Linked DNA regions of Homo sapiens: region 2 is linked to region 1. The links come from fine-mapping of genetic effects on gene expression. Tissue or cell type: nasal epithelium. Region 1 holds a variant in brackets; the other region holds the start of a gene. All regions are shown on one strand. Distances are from middle to middle. Region 1 overlaps LOC102724945 (a long non-coding RNA gene). Region 2 holds the start of EGLN3-AS1 (EGLN3 antisense RNA 1).

Evidence for each region. PIP is the estimated chance that this variant, and not a neighbour inherited with it, causes the effect. A credible set is the group of variants that fine-mapping cannot tell apart.
Region 2: EGLN3-AS1 starts here. The variant in region 1 is the best candidate, but not a certain one, in a credible set for the expression of EGLN3-AS1 in nasal epithelium (TOPMed, PIP 0.87).

The regions. Positions count from the first base shown.
Region 1 is chr14:34,005,822-34,017,257 of GRCh38, forward strand. The region is part of intron 5 of LOC102724945 (a long non-coding RNA gene); the gene reads right to left. Among named protein-coding and RNA genes, the nearest start is that of EGLN3-AS1, 28 kb to the right of the region's middle. RefSeq lists an enhancer at 8,154-8,323. The variant C/T (reference allele first, on the strand shown) is at 6,757.
Region 2 is chr14:34,033,616-34,045,051 of GRCh38, forward strand. EGLN3-AS1 (EGLN3 antisense RNA 1) reads left to right here and starts at 6,366. Exons shown (of 3, transcript NR_184209.1): 1 at 6,366-6,555; 2 at 7,590-7,654. The region is part of intron 5 of LOC102724945 (a long non-coding RNA gene); the gene reads right to left. RefSeq lists a silencer at 9,008-9,302 and enhancers at 9,821-11,020, 10,148-10,547, 10,148-10,442.

The DNA.
Region 1 (11,436 bases):
CAACACTGTTCCAAAGTATAAGTGATGTACAGTCAATGAGGAGCATCAACACCGAATACAGTGTGTGGACCTGGCTTGAATCCTCATTTGAATAAACCAACTTTAAGTAGACATTCTTGGGACATTGAGGCAACAGGATTCAGACTAAGCAAAGATGAAATAAAGAAATTACTGTTAATTTGTAGGTTAAAATGGTGTTGTAATTGAGTAAGGAAAGTTCATCATTTTCTGAGTTTTTAAGAGTGAAATGTCATGATATCTATGATTCAAATTAAGTTAATTCAGCAAAATGTACAGGAGACATGGCAAAATGTTACTAATTGTTCTGCTAGGTGATATGTGTGTGGAAGTTATACTATTATTTTTACATTGTTTGGAAATACCCATAATAAAAAGTTTAGAACATAAAAAGGAAAAAAATACCATTAGTTATTAAACTACATACTTAAAGCCAGGGAGGAAGGACTGAGGGTTTGTAACCAAAGAAGTAAAAACGAGGTGCTTTTTTGTGAACAGAGGCAGCTTTCCTCCATCATTTTCTGCCTGAGGCACTGGTTTCTAGTCATTAATTTATTAAACATTAGTTAGAAACTACTTGGAGTGAGCCCCTAGGGGAGATAAAAAAATGAAGGATAAGACACCCCCTCCACCCTCAAAGAGTAAGAGTCTAGGAGCAGAGAAAGTATGCAGATTCCATAGTTGCACTCTGGAGCCAGACCACCTGGGTTCCGATTCCAGCTATGACACATACTAGGTGTTTATCCGTACCAGTTATTTAAGCTTTGTGTGAATACTAAGTGGATTTATCTTGTAGGCTGTCATAATCATTAAATGAACTAATGTAAGAAAAGTTCTTAAAATTAGTACTTTGTTTATATTTTAAAAAAAAAAGCAATATACAAAAAACACAGTGAAAGTTTTTCTAGAAAGAGATTTTGATATAATCCCAGTGGGGAGAATTCATTCCAGGATTCAGGGCACAATGTGAGCAAAGATTCAGAGAGTAAAGCATAAAGAGCGCTTTGGAAATAGCAACTAATCCATTGCAGTTAAGACTTTTGGGTCTGTTAAAAGGAGTGCTGAGAACTGAAACCAGAAAGGCAAGATGGGCCCGGATTACCCAAAGGGCCAAGAATACCAAGCCAAAGAGCTGTGGCTCTGTCCTGCACGCGCTAGAGGACCACCAAGAGTGTTTGAGCCAGGGAGAAGCATGAATGTTGGAGAAACACTAATTATTCCCTGTGTTTTAAATAATCACTGTGTTCATAGCAAGTGCCAGACATTGTGGGCAAAATGGTCCCTGCCCTCATGGAAGCTTCAGGTTAGAGGAGGAAGGAGATGTTAAATAACCGAACGAATAAGAGTTGTGAAGGAAAAGTGCAGAGTGTTCTGAGAGCTCGTAAGACACCTTAACGTAGATGGAGGGGTGAGGAAGTCAGGCTGAAGAGGTGACACCGGGCTGAGATGTAAAGATATGCAGGAGTGGGCCGAGTGGGCTGGAGAGAAGAGTTTGCTGGGCAGAAGAACAGGACGAGCATAGGCTCTGTGGCAAGAGGGGAAATGACACTCCAAACCTTCTGGGAAAAGGCCAGTGGAGGTAGAACCAGGGGCCTGGGAGATTGTGGTTTGAGATAAGAAAGTGTTAGGCAGGGTTAAATTACCCACCACCTTGGCCACACTGATTGAGCCAGGTATCAACACCTGGCCAAAAGACAGGCTCCTTTAGACTCCTCCGCCAGGTCATCATAAGGTGACCTCGAGTGACACCAGATAGTTATTGCCAGAACCAATCAATGCCTCTCTCTTGGGGAGTTTGAACGTGAAATAGACAGGGAGAAAAAGACTCAGGAATAGAGAAAAACAGACTGACAGATAAATAGAATACAGTGGCAATGCAGAAACAGACATAACATGAACCCTGTAGGCGATATTAAGGATCTTGGTCTTTATGTCAAGCACAAATACCGGTAAGAAATGATGGGGACTGAAAGAGGATTACAGAAGCAGAAATGAAGAAGAGGGGGTGGTAGTTTCAAAAATATGTCCATAAGGACACTTCTCACTTAATTCCTTCTTTTTGAGTGTAGGCTAGACTTAGCTGTTTCCTTTTAACAAACAGAATATGGTAAAAGTAATAGTGTGTGACTTCCAAGATTAGGTTCTAAAGAGGACTGCAGCTACCACCCTGAGCACATACGTTCTCCCCCAACCCACTCCTCCTCCTCTCCCACTACCCCTCCCCAAGTGGGGAAAGTAAACTGTCATGTGGTGAGAAGCCCTGTAGAGAAGTCCATGGTGAGGAACTGAAGCCTCCAGCCAATAGCCAGGAAGGAACTGAGATCTGCTTACAACAATGAGTGATTTTTTTTCTTTAATTTCCATGTTAATTTTAGATTCAGAGAGTACATGTGCAGGTTTGTTACAAGGATATTTTGCTTGGTGCTGAGGTTCGGGCTTCTACTAGTCGTGTCACCCAAATAGTAAACATAGTACCTAATAGAAAGTTTTCCAGCCCTTACCCCCCAAACTTTGAAGTCCCCAGCGTCTATTGTTGCCATCTTATGTCTGCGTGTAGCCAAGATTTAGCTCCCACTTATGAGTGAGGACATGAGATAATTGGTTTTCTGTTTCTATGTTAATTCGCTTAGGATAATGGCCTCCAGCCACATCCGTGTTGCTGCAAAGGACATAATTTCATTCTTTTTATGGCTGTGTAGTTTTCCATGATGTATATATACCATATTTTCTTCATCTCATCAGCCATTGATGGGCACCTAGGTTGATTCCATGTCTTTGCTATTGTGAACAGTGCCAAGATGAACATACGAGTGCATACGTCTTTTTGGTAGAACGATTTATTTTCTTTGGGGTGTATACCCAGTAATGGGATTGCACGGTTGAATGGTAGTTTAGTTTTAAGTTCTGTGAGAAAACTCCAAACTGCTTTCCACAGTGGCTGAAGTAATTTATGTTCCCACTCTGCAGCCTCACCAGAATCTGCTGGGTTTTGTTTTTTTTTTACTTTTTTATAATAGCCATTCTGGCTAACGTGAGATGGTATCTCATCGTGGTTTTGATTTGCATTTATCTGGTAATTAGTGATGGTGAGCATTTTTTCATATTTTTTGGCCACTTGTATGTCTTCTTTAGAGAAGTGTCTGCTCATGACCTTTGCTCACTTTTTTTTTTTTTTTTAATTAAACAGGGTCTTGCTCTGTTATCCAGACTGGAATGCAGTGGTATGATCATGGCTCACTGCAACCTCAAACTCCCGATTTGCCCACTTTTTAATGGAGTTATTTATTCCTTGTTGATTTGTTTAAGTTCTTCACAGATTCTGGATATTAATTCTTTGTCAGATGCATAGTATATGAATATTTTCTTCCATTCTATAGATTCTCTATTTACTCTGTTGATGGGTTATTTTGCTATGCAGAAGCTTTAGTTTAATTAGGTCCCACTTGTCAATTTTTGGTTCTGTTGCAATTGCTTTTGAGAACTTGGTCATAAATTCCTTGCCAAGGCCATTGTCCAGAAGAGTATTTCTTAGGTTTTCTTCTAGGATTTTAATAGTTTGAGGTCTTACAAAGTCTTTAATTCATTTGAGTTAATTTTTGTATATGGTGAAACATAAGGGTCCAGTATCATTCTTCTGCATGTGGCTAGCCAGTTTTCCCAGCACTATTTCTTGACTAGGAGTCCTTTCCTCATTGCTTTTTCTTGTGGACTTTGTTGAAGATCCATTGGTTGCAGGTATGCTGCATTATTTCTGCCTTCTTTATTCTGATCCATTGGTCTATGTCTCTATTTTTCTACCAGCACCATGCTGTTTTGGTTACTGTGGCCTTGTAGTGTAGTTTAAAGTTGAATAATGTGATGCTGCTGGCTTTGTTCTTTTCATTTAGGATTGCTTTGGCTATCTGGGCTCTTTTTGTTGTTGTTCCCTATGAATTTTAAAATAGTTTTTAAAATTTTTAAAATAATATTAGAGATAGGGTCTTGCCATGTTGCCCAGGCTGGTCTTAAACTCCTGGGCTCAAGCAATCCACTCACCTCAGCCTCCCAAAGTGCTGAGATTACAGGCATGAGCCACCCGGCCTGGCCAGTTTTTCTAATTCTATAAAAAATGGCATTGATCATGAGTGATCTTAAAAGTGGTTCTCCATCCGTAGTCAACCTTTAAGATGACTGCAGCCCCAGATAACAACTTGCCTACAACTTCATGAGAGATCAGCTAAGCTAAGCCACTCTCAGATTCCCAGCCTTCACAACCTGTATGAAATAATGGACATATTTTAAGCTGCCAAGTTTTGGCACAATTTGCTATGCACATTGCGTAATGAACACAGAGAGAGATGAATGAAATTCATATTATATAGGTGGAATTGCCAGGACTTTGTGATCATAGCTATTGGGTATAGAGTTGCAAAAGAAGTAAAAAGAATCCCGAGCTTTGGACTGGCTCACTGAGGTTCTATTTTTAGAGAAGGGGTTGGAACACGGGAGGAAGAATTTTGCGGAGAAAGAAAATAATTTCCATTTTGAACTCATTAAATTCGAGAGGCTGATGAGATTTTCAGGTGAATATGTCCCCTGGAGATTTGAAAATATGGCAGGGTGTTAGAGTGGAGAGGGCTGTATGGATAGATATCACTGGGGTAGAGGAGAACCATGGCAGTGGAGGGTATTTCCAAGGAGAACAAGGAGATAATAAAGGCAGATGAAGGACAAACAGCAAGAATTAGATATATTTTTGGTCCCAAAAGTGGAAAAAGAGAAGTAATGCTAAAAAAAAAAAAAAAAAAGAAAAACGGTAAAAACTCTAACGAGAGTTTTGATAAGAAGATATTCAACAGTATCAAAAACTATAGAAAGAGATCCCTATGTCTGGAAAGTTTGGCCTCACATTATACATCTGCATATTAGATTATCTATAAATCTCCTAGTTGGGGTAAGTCAACACTGGCTGCACAGATTAAATCAAATTTCAAGAGCTACAATGCAAAAAACAAGAACTGAATTGTGGTCACCCCAGCAAAGCACTGGCCACCATGTGAAGCTCCCCACAGGTGGTCTATGTGTCTTTTTACAATACTCCTCTCAAATTACAACAGAAGGGACGCTCATGGTTCTCTCTAGACAACCTGCTCGTTTTAGAACGGGGGTTTTTCAAGTTGCAAAATATGGAGACCTTCTCGTTTACTCCAGGATAAAGATACTTAGGAGGCTTGAGGAAGCAAAGAAAATGGTTTCTGGGGCTACATGTGAGGCCTCATGGAGAACTGGAACGTGGTTCAGGATGAAGCAGCAGTTTCTCCAGCAGCCTGCCATTTCTGAAGCATCTCCTCCACTGAGTCCTTTCTCTACTTGCTGCTTCTTCTTAATCTTCTGCTAGCAGATGCCTTTCTATGCCTCCATTCATATCCTCTTCTACTGAAGTCATTACTTGCTTCATAGTGTCTGCTCACTGCCTTCTTTCCACGTCTCTCAGTTTCTGTGTCAACACTGGACTGCTGTCTATCAGTTGTCTGCTTTTCTCTAACTCTCTGTTCATCTCTGTCCCTAGTTCAAATCCCCCAAGAGTGGCTTTGACTGGTTCAGAAAGTCCCTATCCAGTGCCACCTTAGGCCACCTCCTAGGGGCTAAAAGCCTAAAGCAGTGTGTCTTTTGGTCAGTTGTTAATTCCTGGTTCAACCATTCGTCGCCAAAATGGTGGGGGAAGTGGATATCGAAGGCTAGAGAATTCCCTGTGGTCCCTTTTCCCCAAAAGGAGGCAGTGGGCCTGGAAGCTACTTTGTCTTAATGATGTTTCAAGTAGTATCCCCCAGTGAGCTAATGGTTTAAAACTTCCTTTTCTGAGTACAGATTCCTTCTAGAAGGGTTTTTATCTTTAATATTAGCTCAATTTAGAGCAACAACTACTTGTGGTACTAACCCTGAAAGCAGCACATGCTGGTTGCTTACTGACGAAAAATCAAAGGTAAAGACAGAAAATACCGGCTTAACAAGGCTTTGATAAACTGAAAAAGCCTAAAATTATTTCCGTGAACTCTGCTAACAGTAGCCAGTTAGTTCCTGCTCTTCATTCGTATTCATTCATTCATCACCACCTAGTTAGTAGGTATTCTTCTAGTGTGAAGAAGAAGCTGCTTAAGACAGAAATCCTACCCTCAAGGAGCTGACTCCCCAAGACAGGAGAAAGCAGGTACATCTTTCTTCTCATCTCTCTCTTCCCCAGTTCAACTCTCTCTTTCCTCCCTTCCCCTTTACTTCATGAATTTTTTTTGTAAATATGCCCATTCATAGTCAGTTCCTTCCTTGCCTGTGTTTCCTTTATTTATTTTTTTTATGTTTTAGAAACAGAGTCTCACTCTGTCACCCAGGCTGGAGATTCATCATAGCTTAATGCAGCCTTGAACTCCTGGGCTCAAGTGATTCTCCTTCCTCAGCCCCTGGAGTCGTTAGGACTATAGGCACATGCCACCATGCCCAGCTAATTAAAAAAACTTTTTTTTGTAAAGATATGGGTCTCACTATGTTGCCCAGGCTGTTCGAGTTGTCTCAAACTCCTGACCTCAAGCAATCAGTCCTGCCTTGGCCTCCCAAAGGGCTGAGACGAGAGGCATAAGCAACCCCACCCAGCTGCCTGTCCTTCCTTACTGTGTTGTCAAGGATTCATAGGAGCCCTCACAGACTCTGCCTTACCAAACATGTAAAAAGTAAACGTGGCTGGAAGAACACACACCAAAAGATCAA[C/T]AGCGATTACTCCGGGGAGGTAAGCAGGATGGGGCAGGAAGTGGATGGTTTTTAATTTACATACCTTTATAGTGTTGGAATTTTTTTTTCTTTTCTTTTTGAGACAGAGTTTTGCTCTTGTTGCCCAGGCTGGAGTGCAATGGCTTGATCTTGGCTCACCACAGCCTCCGCCTCCCAGATTCAAGTGATTCTCCTGCCTCAGCCTCCCGAGTAGCTGGGATTACAGGCATGCACCAACACGGATGGCTAATTTTTTGTATTTTTAGTAAAGACGGGGTTTCACCATGTTGGCCAGGCTGGTCTCGAATGTCCGACCTCAAGTGAACCGCCCGCCTCAGCCTCCCAAAGTGCTGGGATTACAGGCGTGAGCCACTGCGCCCGGCCAGTGTTTGAATTTTTATAAGCTTTTGTTTAGAGATTACTTATTATACTAGAAAAGTAAGTTAGAAGTAAACATTTTCTATTAAAAAAATGAAAAGAAATGAGAAGGAATGAACAACTGTGAACAAATGAAGTGGGTAAAATTTTCCACGGCCCTACCTCAAGGTTACTTTGGTTTCTTTTTTGTTTTTTGACAATCACTAAGGAAGCTCTGTGGAGTGAAGGAGGAACATCATCATCTGCAAGTGACTCAGAAAAAATCTCTTTTGTCCTTTAGATTTGTTTAATTCATGTAGATTGCTTTCTTATTCTTGAAATTCAAGTGACCGTATTCTTACTTTACTATAGAAAAGCAATTGACATGATAAAAATAAGCAAGCCATTTGGGACGTTGAGATTTTCGAGGTAGGTAATGGAAAATTTGGCGGTGAGGGGTCAACAAGGGATGATTTTTCCTAGACGTGTGAGCTTCCTGTAATGTGGAATGTGTACGTGTGAAATCACCAGTCTCTATATTTGCAATAACTTAATAACATGACGGTTCCTCCACCCGTCCTCTTTCCCCACACTGAGTTCCAGTTTCACACTGGGATACTCATTGTGAAGCTTTACAAAGAAAGGAGGAAGTAAACCTACCAACAAGGCAGCAATGTGTTTCAAATGCCACATTCTTAACAGATGAAGGTTTTTTTCATCACACTGATTAGCAATGCCACATGAGTCAAAGTGGATGGTCCAAATCTTGTATTTAATTTTCTTCTCGTGTCCTGGGCCTTTCAAATTTATTAATTATTGTTTACAAGGCCTTGCCTTGCTGGCGTACATTTAGCAGACACTACAATCTTAGCAAGGGTCAGCTTTATCTTGCTGCAGGGTTGCACCTGCTCCCTCAACTGAACTAAAAAGGAAGTAAAAATGTGGTATTTAAGTGGCCACAGCCTTTTGTCTGATGCAGGAAAGCAACGAGAGCTTCTGTTTCTTCACCGTTGTTCATGCTAAAGGGTCTCCAAGTGTATAACACTTAGAGGAATTAGTTTCCTGCTCCCTAAAAGCAAAGAGGTCCGCAGAGAAGAGACAGCAGCTGGCCAGTGAGTCCCAGTAATTCCCAGCAGCACACCAGGGTCTAACAGAGGAGACTACTGTGTTTGAGGAAACTGACGGGATCTAGAGAGAAACCAATGCTTAATGTTTGTCTATCATTCCTCCTAAAAATTAGGTAAGAGCAAAAATAGGCAAATTGCTGCTTGAGGAATAACTAATTTAGTAATAGTTCAGAATAATGCATTGCATTGCCCTTAGATTCAAAGTGGTGTTTTAAGTGACATTCTATTAGCAGAGCCTGCCAGCTGACAAAACTTAGGTAGTATTTGGCTCCCTAAGAGAAGGCAAACCATGAGCATGTGGATTTTGTTTTGTTTGGTTTTGTTTTTTTGAAGACGGAATCTCGCTGTGTTGCCCAGGCTGGAGTTCAGTGGCGCCGTCTTGGCTCACTGCAACCTCCGCCTCCTGGGTTCAAGTGATTCTCCTGCCTCAGCCTCCCAAGTAGCTGAGATTACAGGCTCGTACAACCATGTCCAGCTAATTTTTTTTTGTATTTTTAGTAGAGACAGGGTTTCACCATGTTGGCTAGACTGGTCTCCAACTCCTGACCTCGGGTGATTCACCTGCCTCAGCCTCCCAAAGTGCTGGGATTACAGGCGTGAGCCACCACGCCCTGCTGCATGTGGATATTTTAATTAAAGTTGAATACAGAACTCATTGTGCTTGATATTGAACTTCCTGGGACTACCGTGGCCCACTACTTGAATCTTAGTCCTGACATTGTTAAATGCAAGCAGCTCGGGAGAATGTGGTGGCTTGCTTCAGAGAAAGAAAAAAAGCACTTCTGACAAAATCCCAGAAGCTAAGGTTATTCACGGTTATAAAAGCAGTAACAAAAGTTTTGAATGTTGGTTCTACTGTTTACAATTTTAGAAAAATGTTGTTCGCCTGTCCTTTGATTTTATGAGGCAATTTTGAAAAACATCAATCAAAGAACTGCTCTGAATCTCCAGGTGTGAAAACAGGGGATGACAGGAAATCCAGATGGTCAAATTATGGGCAGAGGTTTTATATTTGTGATTGGTAGAGAGAAGGAGGCCTGTGTCTGAGGCACAACAGATGGGAAACAACCAACTTCATCACTTAAAGAATTATCCTCACTCTCACCCCACAATCTGGAAACAAGTGACAGTGTTGCTCTGCGTAAAGATAGCAGACCTCTTCCAGATTAGGGGGACTTAACAGAGCCGTTTAATTACTTTTTGGGTTAAGAAGTTGCCATCATTATCTCCATTAGTTAATAAGAGACTTACTGCCAGTGACTAAAAAGAAGTAATTACTATTATAATTTTTTAAAATTACACATACATTTCACAATTCTTTTTTTTTTTTTTTTTTTTTTTTTGAGATGGAGTCTCACTCTGTCACCCAGGCTGAAGTGCAGTAGCACAATTTTGGCTCACTGCAAGCTCTGCCTCCCAGGTTCATGACATTCTCCTGGAGAAGAGGAATATGGTATCAAACATCAAAATTTACTAAAGCGGCCAGTCTAGCAGATCATTCAGTCTTTGGAATTCCTTTTATTTATCTTTGAGTTCAAAATTCTGACCTATGTTTGTCTCAATTTAGATTACTGCTAAAATGGAGAAAAAATATGGCACCCATGAAGCCGCTGAATTAAAAGAAAGCATAAACTAACCTTTAAAAATAGTTTGAATTAAGCTTCTTTGGAAAGGGAGATTATAAGATTGGCTAATGCTCAAAAATGGTAATTTTCCTTTGTTTAACTTAAAGTAATAATTTATCTCAAAATAACATCACAGTTACTTGTAAAGATGATGGTATCTGGCTTTTCATTTGGAAGTGTTTTCCAGAAAGCAACTCAGGAATGTACAAAGTTAAACCTATATACACACCAGGTGTATGCGGTCAGGGGTACGCTTTGTTTACCTGTAACTGATTTTAACTTCTTTTAAAGTTAAAATTGAATTGCTCTTCTTTTAAAGAAAAATGTGCATCACTTTCATTTCAGTGGAGTTTTTTGTTTAACTCAAATAAAAAAGATAACAAAGAACTAATAGCCATATTCAATTGTTTAAAATCTTACAAATTAATGAAAAGATAAACAAGAAAAAAATTATGTCAAAGGACATAAATAATTTTGAAATGGCCAATAATCATTTGAAACAACATTAAACTTCATTAAGAATCTAAGGAGTACAAATTATAACAAGTATAAGATGTCATTTTTCACTAGAGCAATTGGAAAGAAAAATTTTAAATACTTAATGTTGGGGAATGTATATAAAAATAAGTGCAAGGATATACACTGCTAGTATAAATGTAGTGTGAGTGCGTGTGTGTATATATACATCTACATATATACCTTCTAAAAGGTATTGATTCAAATTTATTATATATACACATATATTATATAAGTATTATTTATATGAACATATACAAATATATGTATATGTATTTATCTAGATACATAATAAATATTATAAATATATTTATATTTATTTATATTTAGTGGACAATAATCATTTGAAACAATGTTTAGCTTCATTAAGAATCTACGGAAGAATGTTCCTGAAGGTTCTTCATGGAATGAAGAAATGGAATGGACCATGAAGAAATGGTCTTCATGGAATTCCCAGCATACCTCATACCAGAGAGAGAGAATATAACATCCGTTGTTCCCCATTACTATTCTCATTACATTAAGGATGAACAACAACCAGGAAGCGCAAAACTCTGGCAGCCATAAGCATATCTGAATATGTGATTTCTAATATTTATTTCCTATGTGATACACACACACTCACACACACACAGACACAGAGTCATGTGTGTTTTAAAGCCTTAGATGGGTGCATATTCTTTGATTCAATGACTAGATATCTAGAAATTTATTCAGAAATAATCACAGATATGCTCAAAGATATAGCTACAAGGATGCTCATTAGACAGCTATCAAAAACATTATCAAAAACTTGGAGACAGCCTAGATATCCAAAAATAGAGGGTTGCTTAAGTATGTTATAAAACATTTATACAGCAGAACACTACGCGGAGGCAGAGGAATATTTAATGTTTATAATACATTAAATGAAAAGGGAGCCAGGCATAGTGGCATGCACCTGTAATCTCAGCACTTTGGGAGGCTGAGGTGGGAGGGTAGCATAAGCCCAGGAGTTCAAGGTTGCAGTGAGCCACAATTGTGCCACTGCACTCTAGCCTGGGTGACAGAGTGAG
Region 2 (11,436 bases), 28 kb after region 1:
CACTCCACTCAACTGCAGCCTGGGCAATGAGTGAGACTTCGTCTCAAGGAAAAAAAAAAAAAACACAACACTCCACTCAGCCTTCCTTTCTTCACTCTAGGATCAGACTTACAGTGTGACGACTGTTTTACCTTCCTTTAGCTCCCTTGCCACTTTCTCGTAGACTTTCACACTACTAAAATCCTGCCATGTTTGATCTTGTCTTGATGTCTGCTTCTTGGGGGACTGGGGACTAACATGCCCCAGTTTTTGCTTGAATAAATAATCTGTAATCTTCATTCCCTTAAGAATATTTAGCAAACACCTATTATGTGCTGGGAATACAGGGGTGAACAACAAAAGCATCTGTGCCCTCATCAGTAACAGATTAATCAAATAATTGCAAAAATTAAAAGTAGAGGGACCTGTGATGAGATGAGAGGGGAGAACCTGACCTATTCTATGGGAGTGGGAGAGAATCCCCTGAAGGATGAGGAGTTAACCAGGCAGAGGTGTGAAGTATTTCAGGCTGATGAACAGAAGGTGCAAGGCCCTGGGCTAGTAGGGAGCTCCCCAAACAAAAGGACTTGGAGGAGGCTTCAGACAAAGGAGGGGAATGCAGAGCAATGTGACTGAAGAGGACGGCCCTTAAGAGACTGAAGAGGATGGCCTTGTGGGCCATCTTGGGAATTTGGAAAGACAATTTCTCTTTCTAGAGTGCCAGCTCTTTGAAAGCAATTACCTTGTAGCAGCCCTCTTTGCTAGTTCTGCCTTGCACAATGCAAATGCTCACTAAATATTTGTTGAATCAAACTAATAGAAATCAGTAAGGAAATAACTCAATTTTTTTGTGTGTGTTATTCTCCCTATCACCAACGGCACAGCAAATTAGCCAAATGCGTCCACCACATAGAAGCTTCTGGCCCCTGCTGGCTGATAAAAATCATCACAATGAGGATGATAATTCCCAGGCATTGGTTTAATTGTTGGAGAGACACAAGCAGAGAGATGCTGCAGAACATGCTCTGGATCAAACTGTCCAAGTACTGGTCCATCCGGGTGCGGTGGCTCATGCCTGTAATCCCAGAACTTTGGGAGGCCAAGTCAGGCAGATCACCTGAGGCCAGGAGTTCGAGACCAGCCTGACCAACATAGTGAACCCCGTCTCTAATAAAAATACAAAAATCAGCTAGGCATGGTGGCCCACGCCTGTAATCCCAGCTATTCCTACTGAGGCAGGAGAATCGCTTAAATCTGGAAGGTGGAGGTTGCAGTGAGCCCAGAGCACCCCCCACTGCACTCCAGCCTGGGAGACACAGTGAGATTCTGTCTCAAAAAATATATATATATTGACCTTACCACTTCCTACTTGGGTGACCTTAAGTTACCTAATGTCACTGCATCTCAGTGTCCTCATCTGTAAAGCAGAATTGATCCACTACCTCCATTGAAGCACTGGGGATGGGAGATGGGTACAGGAAATTGTTATAGAAAGTACCTTCAGCATACTGTCTGGTGCAGAGCAAGCGTCCAATAAATGGTACCAATTGTTAATATTCACACGTGGTCCTCTCGGCTGAGATAAGAGAACATGCACAGGGAGACTTCCCAAACCAGAGGGAGTTGTCACAAACTGTCATCAGAAGTGCATGGGATCACTTCTGATGCAAGAGGCCAGCTTTAAGGACCCACTGGGTAGGCCGCAAACCTTGATGCCTGGCCAAGCCCAGGCTTGCACTTTACACACTTGGACTCTGAATCCCACAGTAGTATTTAAATATAGATCTGAACACCAGACTAGACAGTGCACCACTAATGTGCGGGTATATGCAACATGCTCAAAAGGCAAACAGCGGCTAGGGAAAGGACACACTGCTTCTAGCTTTTCTGTCCTGGAGGACAGAGGCTGCGCCTTTTTTTGGCTCCATTTCAGAGCAGTAAAAGGCAGCATCATGAGCAGACACGGCCTAGTTCCTGCCTCTCAGGTTTGTTTTCCCATGTGGGACATTGCAGTTAGATCCTGAGCTTAGAAGAAAATGCCTACGGAATCAAAAAGGATAAAAGGAGGAAAAATACCTGGCTTCTGCCCCAAACGCTGTGCCCTAGCTGGCTCCAGCTGCCTTGGAATGGGGCAGGGTGGTTGGGTTGTAATTGCCCGGGCAGAGATATGAGGTATGCAGGCCTACGTGCACTGCCTCACACATCACTTGGCTGGGAGGGGCTCTGTTTAGTCAGTGTCCAGCTGATAACGACCTGAATCCTTAGGATGCCAGCTGCCTGCCAAGCTGGACATGTACAGACAGTGGCACCCAGAGGTCCAGGAGACAGAACAAAGGGCCTGTTACTGAGTCAGCCCTGTCTAAGTGTGTCATCCTTACTGAAAAAGGTTTTGGGCAGGCTGGCAGAGAGGCTATGTCCCAGGAAGCCCAGAATTCTGGAATGGAGACAGTCAAATTCTAAAGGGGTTCTCTGCTGGCAGATTCCTGTCATTGATTCAACCTGGGCTCTCTCACTAGGATCTGGCAGTTGGGCCATACCTTCCTAAGAGTATTCTTTTCCCTGCCTCCCACTGTTGCCAGGCCCAGCTGGTGCTGGCTCTCTTAGTGCCCTCTTGTTTAGGGGGACCGCATCCATCAGGGCCTTAAACCTTCCCTCTCCCCTTTTCACCAGGACATAATGATATTAATGATGGCTAACACATATTTAGGACTTACATCAGCCACTTACTGCTCTAAGCACTTCACATATATGTTGACTAATTTACTCATCACAACCACACTATGAGATGTGTACCATTATTTTCCCATTTAACAGATGAGTAAACTAAGGCACAGAGAGTAAATACCTTACCCAAAGTCATGCAGATAGCAAGGTGACAGAGCCAGGAAGCAAGTCCAGGTGGTCTGAACCCAGAGTCCCTGCTCCTAACCATTATGCTATATTTCTTCTCGGTTCATGACCAAGTTCTTACTGATTAAAATTAGTTTAAAATCAACCGATTCCTAGGCCTGCTTTTCCAGAATGAACAGCACTCAAGCTCAGAGCTGGGATTTCATAACTTCCTATTTTGTGTATAGTAAAATTGAGAAATGTTTACAAATTAGGAGAGGCTAGGAAGGGAAGCCAAGCAGCTCAAAAATGTGATATCAGCTTTGTGATGAAAACTGGTCTTTTCAGCCAAGTGAGTACTTGGACAAAATATCCCTCTCAATGCAAGCTATGCCTTAGATTTTCTAGTTTAAGAGACACTTGTGATACTAAAATTAGTCGGGTGTGGTGGCGGGCACCTGTAATCCCAGCTACTTGGGAGGCTTGAGGCAGGAGAATCACTTGAACCTGGGAGGCAGATGTTGTAGTAAACCAAGATCACGCCATTGCACTCCAGCCTGGGTGACAGAGTGAGACTCTGTCTCCAAAAAAAAAAAGAGACACTTGTAATTCAGTTAGGGGAACTGGGTACATAGTTAGGAAAAGCAGCTCATGGTTTGTTTATACCACTCCCCACTCCCACCACCACCCAGGCACCTCACCCCAGGCAGAAATAGCAGCCTTACAAATTTGAATGTTGTGGCCAGATTCGTGAGCCAGTCCCAGAAAGAGGGAATTCTTTGTAGCCATGGAAGTAATGGATGATCTAACATTACTGACCACTTAATCGCTAGGTACTTTATGTCATTTAATGCTCGCAAAAAGCCTAGGACATTGTTACTATTTTCCCCATCTTGTAGATGAGAATGCTGATGTTCAGAGATCTTATATACCTGCTCAAAGTAAGTCCTGGTGAATCTAGGACTCAAACCCCATCTGAATCCAAACGAGGGAAGGACTCAGTGCCAATTCAAGTCCAACTTTCCCAGGAGCCTTCCCTGTCTCCTCTGACCCACGTCAGCCCCTGTATTTTGACACAACTCTATTACCTGTCATCTTGGCCACAATCTGCACTTATTACCATTGTTTCATGCTGGGCCAGTCTTATTAGCCAATAAGATTGTAAATTTTGGGGAGCAGTGACACTGGGTTGAATTTTGTTTCTGGCTATTTCAGGACAGACAAACTGGGAGAGCTAAACACCTAGAACCACAGCCTGGTCTCCCTAGTCGCGGTAGGTCCGTCACTTCATCCCTAGAAAGTGCCAGTTTGGCTTTACGAGTTTCTAAACCATTCATTGGGAATAGTTTACATGTTATGCTTGCCCTCCTTTGTCAATCTCTTTACTGCTACTGCAGTTGGGTCCAGATATTGCAAATCCTCCCCGAAAGTAACTAATTCTGACTGCATTGTCACAAACTTGGGTTTAGCACAAGAGGGAAAGGTAGCTGAGTTTCCAATTCTGCTTCTCTTTGACTGTAGCTCACCATGCTGCAGGCCCTTCCTCCCATGATGGTGCTAACCAACATAAGCCCTAAGCTCTAATCTCAACCCTCTCCCAAATCCCAACATGTCAGACTAAATAATAATAAGGCCACAGGGCAGGCACACTGAGGCATGTGTGCATCATTACCCAAGTCAAAACCAAGATATATTCCAGGGCAGTTTACGATGCAGAAGTCACCCTTTAATTTAACAAACAAGCAAGAGGGCTGGGTGTTTCCTTCATTTCCCGAAGTAAAGAGCAAAAGCTTTTCTCATAGTAAAAAGCCTGAACCCACTCAACCTGATCCTGTCCTCCCAGTCAACAAGCACATTGATGTCAGTAAGAGTGTCCAGACATATAATCATGTATGAAAGTCAACAAAAGGAAGGCATCATCTCTTTCTGCCACCTCTCCAGAAGATGTGATAGTGAAGGTGTTGTCAGCTAACTGCTTCAAAGGCAAGCAGGGCAGTAGGCTGTTCCATGTCCCCTGGGAACATGAACATTACTTCACACTACGATTTACTGAAACAAAAGCAAACAGGGACCAGCAGAGACAGCTGTGAAATGAGATGGTGACATCTTCCTGATGCCTTTCAGCTGCTTGGATCTCCCCATTTTAAGACAGATAATGAGGCCATCTTAGGCTCAGCCCTTTTCTGATCCCATCTCTTTTCACTACAATGTACCTGTGCAGTGTGCTGATCCCTCCATGTTTTTAAAGGGAAGTTCCTCTGATCAGTGACTCCGTCGGAATATGTCGATGTCTAGCCTCACACTACAGGGTGATGACAGGCAGCCTTTTTTTCCCTCCTCTTAGGTTATACGAGCGTCTTAAACATAGTGGAACTCACAATTCCAGCTTCATTCCAAACTAGTGAGATATTTCTCAGCTGCTTCCTCCACCTGCTCCTGAGGTCCAGAGTACAGGGCATTTGCCTAAGTCAGCATGCTAGGTGATAACCACAAAGCTTTTCCTGCCAACCTTGCCATTTCCAAGCCCTTCTCTAACTGCATTCTCCTCTATTCTAGTCTCAACTCTGCTTGCTATTGGTGGAGTGCTTCTCCAGGGATGCATGTGGAGGAAAAGGAAAAGGAACCAGAGATGAAGGGGACATCCTCCTCCCTGGCACTGTCTCCATCTCTCCACAGTTCACCCATCATCTCCATTGGAAGGAAGGTACTCATGATCTTCACTGGAAGGAAGGCACCCAGAACCGCCCTGCAGAGACCATGAAATTAGTTGAGTGCTTCTCAAGAAATCTGTGATAAAGGGCCCGCTGATTTTTTCTAAAATTTCCAATCTACTATGAATCCTCAATTTTGTAGAATAAACAAAAATGAATTATTAGAAAAGAGTTAAAAATAACAGGCATATAAAATACAAGCTCAACTTTTTTGTTATTATGTCATAAAACTATTCCATCATATTGCTATGAACGTTTCTAAACAATTGCTCTCCATTTCTTCCCTTGTCCACAAACCAGCACGGGTTTGAGTCTCCCTGCTCTAGCTCAAGGTCTTAGCTATTTACTTAACCACTCAGAGCCTTGACCTGTTGTTTCTGCAAGATGGAAGAACAGTCATTACCTCAGCTGGTCAATGATGTCCCACATCTATATAATTCCAGGGACTCATTCCTGATTCTCCCTTAAGTTCTGAAAATATTTCAAAGACAGTAAAATAATGCTGAACTTCTGAGGAGGGTATTTGTTTGCATTTCTTACTGCTGATCTGGAACTACCTAATATTAAAGCACCTTGGAGAGTAATGAAAGAAATACACAAGAGAAGAAGAGGCAAACACTGGTGGGTCACTCACTGTCTCAGGGCTTCCTTTGTGGAACCAATAGGTATTTTGAAAAGCATCCTGAAAACATGTCAAAGGTCTAAGGATTGTTATCATTGGGGCTGGTGAGTCATGGCCCAGACAGACAGTAATACAGGTGCCCAATCGGCTGCTGTCTATCCAAAACATGCCACTGGACTGTGAGGGAGGCAACCCTTAAAATGGTGTGAAATAGAAAAAGAGGACAAACTTGTCTGCAGCACTCAGGAGGCTCAGGGAATTAACCAGGAGGGAACAGTAGCCCGGTTAAAATAGTTTCTGTACTTCCAGAGGAAGCAATTAAATCTCAGCGTCTACCATGGCAAAAGACCGATTGTACTTGAGGAACAAAATCGGGGATGATCATCCTTTAGTGGCGGGAAGCTGGAAAATGAGGTAGGACATATAGGGTGATGGGCAGGACTCTGCTATGGACTGAATATTTGTGTCTCCCTCACCAAATTTATAAGTTGAAACCTAAATCCCCAATGTCATGGTATTTGGAGGTGGGGCCTCCAGAAGTTTTTATATCATTATGGTGGAGCCCTCTTGAATGGGATTAGAGCCCTTATAAGAAAAGACATGACAGAGATGCTCTCTCTCTGGTTTCTGCCATGTGGGGATACAAAGAGAAGATGGCTATTTCTAATCCAGGAAGAGGGCCCTCACTAGACACTGGATCTGCTGACTTCTGAGCCTCCAGAATTGTGAGAGATAAATTTCTGTTATTGAAGCTACCCAGTCCATAGTGGTTTGTTATAGCAGCCTAAACTAAGACTCTATTCCACCAGAAGCAATTTTTAAAATAGCTTTATTGGCATATAATTGGCATCCAATACACTTCATGTGTTTACAATATAAAATTTAATATGCGTTGACACAGGCACACACCTACAAAACCATCACAACAATCAACCATCACCGGCACATCCATCACCACCAAAAAGTTTCCCAGTGCCCCTTTATCATCCCTGCCTCCCTGCTCTTCCTTCCCTACCCACAAGATAAGCACTGACCTCCTTTCTTTCATTATATATTTGTTTGCATTTTCTATAATTTTATATAAATGGAAACATGCAGTATATATGCTTTTTGAGGATGGGGGGGGTCTGGCTTCTTTAATTCAACATAATTATTTTGAGAATCATTCATGTTGTGGTATGTATCAATTGTTCATTCTTTTATATTGCTGAGTAAGTAGTTTTTCACTTATAGCAATTTTACATCTCAAGCAAGGTTACCCTGGGACTAAAATTTTGAGGTGTTAAGGAAAGTTTATAAAAAATGTGGGCTTTCCCTTAGAGCAGAGCTTGCTGCTGCTATCTTGGGAAATAAACCTTTTCTTTGGTCTCAAAATTAAGGACAGTTAATTAAAGAAAAAATAGCCATTTAATATTCTTTAATGATAAAAAGAATTTTGTAATTCCCAGGGACTGTGGGCTGTGAGGAGAGAGAAAGAGGCTTGAGAAACCAGAAACCATCATTTGCATCCAAGGTAAATCTCAACCCATTCTGATTCTCAGTTTCCTATTGTTTGTTTCTGCACTTGTGGTAGTAAATGCACTGAAGAGAATGTTACTATTCCAGTCTTGATTTTGCTTTTGGAATCACTAGAAGGGAAGACTACTCTGCACTGCAATTATATCATTCATTCGTGCATTCATTCATTCAGTCACCATACATGTATCAGTGTCTTCTCTATGCTTGACATCACACTGGGGATAAAGAGACAGATCTAAGGCTTATGGGAAGACTCGGTTCCTGCTTTCACAGAGTTATGGGGTATGCAGGTATCAAGGCTGCAGAGTTTTACAACAGACTGACAGTAAATGAGAGATCAAAGAGATGACAGACAGGTCAAGATGGTGCTGAGGCTCTCAAGTTCCCATCATGGAGACTAGAAGACAGGATTGAATATGGATATGGTGACAGAGGAAGGATTCTGACTCATAGACTATTAGAAAACACAGGCCCCATTGGCAATAACAGAGAATGCAACCCCCAACTCCCCCAAAGGAGCGGTGGGGAAGACTGGAAGATGTAGAGGCATATGGAGCATGGCTCCTGTCTCCAAACACTAGCCTTGAATGTGCACATTGTTGTTTGCACTACCAAAAAGTAAAGAAACCTATTTTCCTTTTTTTTGTTTTTTTCTTTTTTTAAGACAAGGTCTCACTCTGTCGCCCAAGCTAGGGTGCAGTGGCGTGATCACAGCTCACTGCAGCTTTGACCTCCCAGATTCAAGTGATCCTCCCACCTCAGCCTCCTGAGTAGTTGGGACCACAGGTGTGTGCCACCACTCCTAGCTAATATTTTAAAATTTTTGTCTATAGAGATGGAGTCTCCCTATGTTGCCCAGGCTAGGCTTGAACTCCTGGCCTCAAGTGATCCTCCTGCCTTGGCCTCCTAAAGTGCTGGGATTACAGACACACCCAGCCTAGAACCTATTTTTATAAATAGGTGGCAGTAGTCTACAGAAGTTTCCTTTTAAAAAGTGTGTTTGTTCCCAATCCATCTGTCATAAAGTTACACTAAAAGAGCACAAAGGGAAAATAGCAGGACACAAAATTGAATGAGTAAGGTGAGGATTATAATAAAAAATACAAACAACCTATTGCTTAGGAGGAAGGGGATCTAGTGGAGAAATGCCCAAAGAAATACCAGAAAAGCTAAACATCACCTTTTTGTGTCTTCTTCAAAATTTCTTTAGTGAGCATTTTCCTATTCGAGTTTTCAAGAATTATTTTGAAACATATCCTTCATGGGAAGTCATGGATTCTCAGCAGAAGGAAACCAAAATCACCAATCTGAATTTGCCTGCAGTCTAGAGAGAAGCCTAGAACCAGGGAGGGGGCTTCAGGGAAGCCAGTGGCAAAGGAAGGGTAGGACTTTGCCAAGGGGTTTTTGCAGCCTGAGAACTATACCCTGAGGTGCAGAGTGAAGAAGTGCAGATAGGAGGGACTGGAGTTCAACGGGAGAGCAGCACACAGGCAGGTGTGAGTAGTAGCCTTAGAAGGGCCAGGACCAATAAGGCCAAGGACATGGCTGGGCAGCCATGAGAAAGCAATTTCTTTAGACCTCAGGATCCTTGTCTTCCAAATGGAAAAGGAGCACTGGGTGATCTTTAAGATCCCTTTTAACATACAGGAATTTGAATTGTATAATTCATGCCAATATATATCTATTGAAGACCTCAGCTGAGATTCTCCAACCTCAGCCTCCCAACTGGCTGGGACTATAGGCGTGTCCCACCACACCCAGCTAATGTTTTTTATTTTTTTGTATAGATGAGGTCTCACTATGTTGCCCAGGCTAGCCTCGAACTTCTTGGCTATGTCTGAAGCACAGTGGGTCAGCAACTACAAACCTCCTCTCCAGTTAGCTCACATCAATCCAAAAATATTGAATATCGGTTACTCAATATATAGTGATGTATATTTTCTAGAAAAAGAGTTGTGTTGTGCAAAAGTAATCCCACATTAAAGCAAGGGCTAAGAGGGCAAACCTGTGGGGGTTTTTTGTTTTGTTTTGTTTTGACGGAGGAGTCCCCAGGCTGGAGTGCAGTGGCGCTATCTCGGCTCACTGCAACCTTTACCTCCCGGGTTCAAGTGATTCTCCTGCCTCAGCCTCCCAAGTAGCTGGGACTATAGACACACGCCACCACACCACACAAAAATACAAATAAATTTTTGTATTTTTAGTAGAGATGGGGTTTCACCATGTTGGCCAGGATGGTCTTGATCTCCTGATCTCATGATCCTCCTGCCTCAGCCTCCCAAAGTGCTGGGATTATAGGCGTGAGCCACCGTGCCCAGCCAAACCTGTGTCTTTTATAATGTTCCAATCTACTCTGATTAAGGACGTTGGAAAAGGGATTCTCTAAGGGTCATGGAATGGAAACTAACACATGCCTCAAAGGGGAGATGCCAAGACATGGAGGAAAAACCTAGTACCCTCATGGACGTTACTGTCAGAAGGGGTGTCCTTGTCTTACTCCCAGAACTGTCTCCAGTCACCACTGTTGACTAAAGTTAGAGGTGAGCTGCTGTCTCTTGGTGAGGAATGTGAAAACTCATGCACAGATAGGTGGAGCAGGAAGTTGGGGGAAGGTCAGAAAGAAAACAAAAGGGTTTCCTGGGATGAGTCACTGCCTTTCTGGGAAACCATTTCAGAAGCCACCGTGAAGTCCCCAACACCTGTCCAAGCCCTATACTTTGTGCTCAAATGAAGTGTGGCAAACAAAGTTCTGAGCCACATCTGACAGCCCACAGGCCACATGGAGGGCAGAGGTGTGAGAAAGAGCTGTGTGAGGCCAGCACACGTGACAATCTGCACATCACCTACCAGAGTCTCCAGAGCTCACTTTTCAGTGGACTGAAGGCTCTTAGTTCAAATTATCCTCTTCTTTAAATGGAGCACACTTTATGCTATTGTTTCCTGCAATGGCCACAGCTTGGATTTTCAGATAAAGTTTTTAAGTGTAGAAGGCTTACTGAATCTAGAGGAAAAAAACAAATCTGACCATAATCCTGAGTCTACAAAGTAAAATGGGAATTGGTGGATCCCACATGAGATGAATTCCATTTGTTAATTTATGTTGATCTGGAAACAAAACCAACTTTTATCTCTTCATCCACTAAAAGGGATGTGTGCAACAAACTGGAGAAAGTCAACCAAGACATAGGAAGACACGGGTGCCAGAACACAGGGCATCCAACCCAGGAGAGCAGGAGAGAGGAATTCCAGAATGATGGCAAGGAGAACACGGTGGCCCTGGAGAACCACCTCTCCCAAATACGGGCAGGACAGGGGCCTTTAGGAGGGCTGTCTCAGTGAAAGAGGGAATAATGTTTGCGCATGGATCAGGACGTGATGCACAGTTCTGTCAGGGAGCTTTGCGTGCAAAACCAACCAACTAAGCCAATTAAAACAAAAATAAATCAATTATTCATTCCAGAGGTAAAGAGTTACATAAGAGAGAACAAGTAATCTTAGCACAGTACATGGCTCAGCGTGAATGATCGTCACATACTTCCAGAAATGTGACCACCGAAATATTGGTTTCATCCACATCATAAAACAGTGCTATAACCATATCTGGAGCAAGGGAGGAAGGGGAGAGTGACAGAAAGGGGGATGCAAACACAAGAAAACTAACTCCTCATCTGCCTCAGCAGAAAGTTAGTGCATAATATCCAAACCTGCAAAATCAAGAAATAGCAGCATAAGCATGTTGTTTAGAAGGTTTTCGGATTTGGAAGCAGTTGCCTCAGGGGT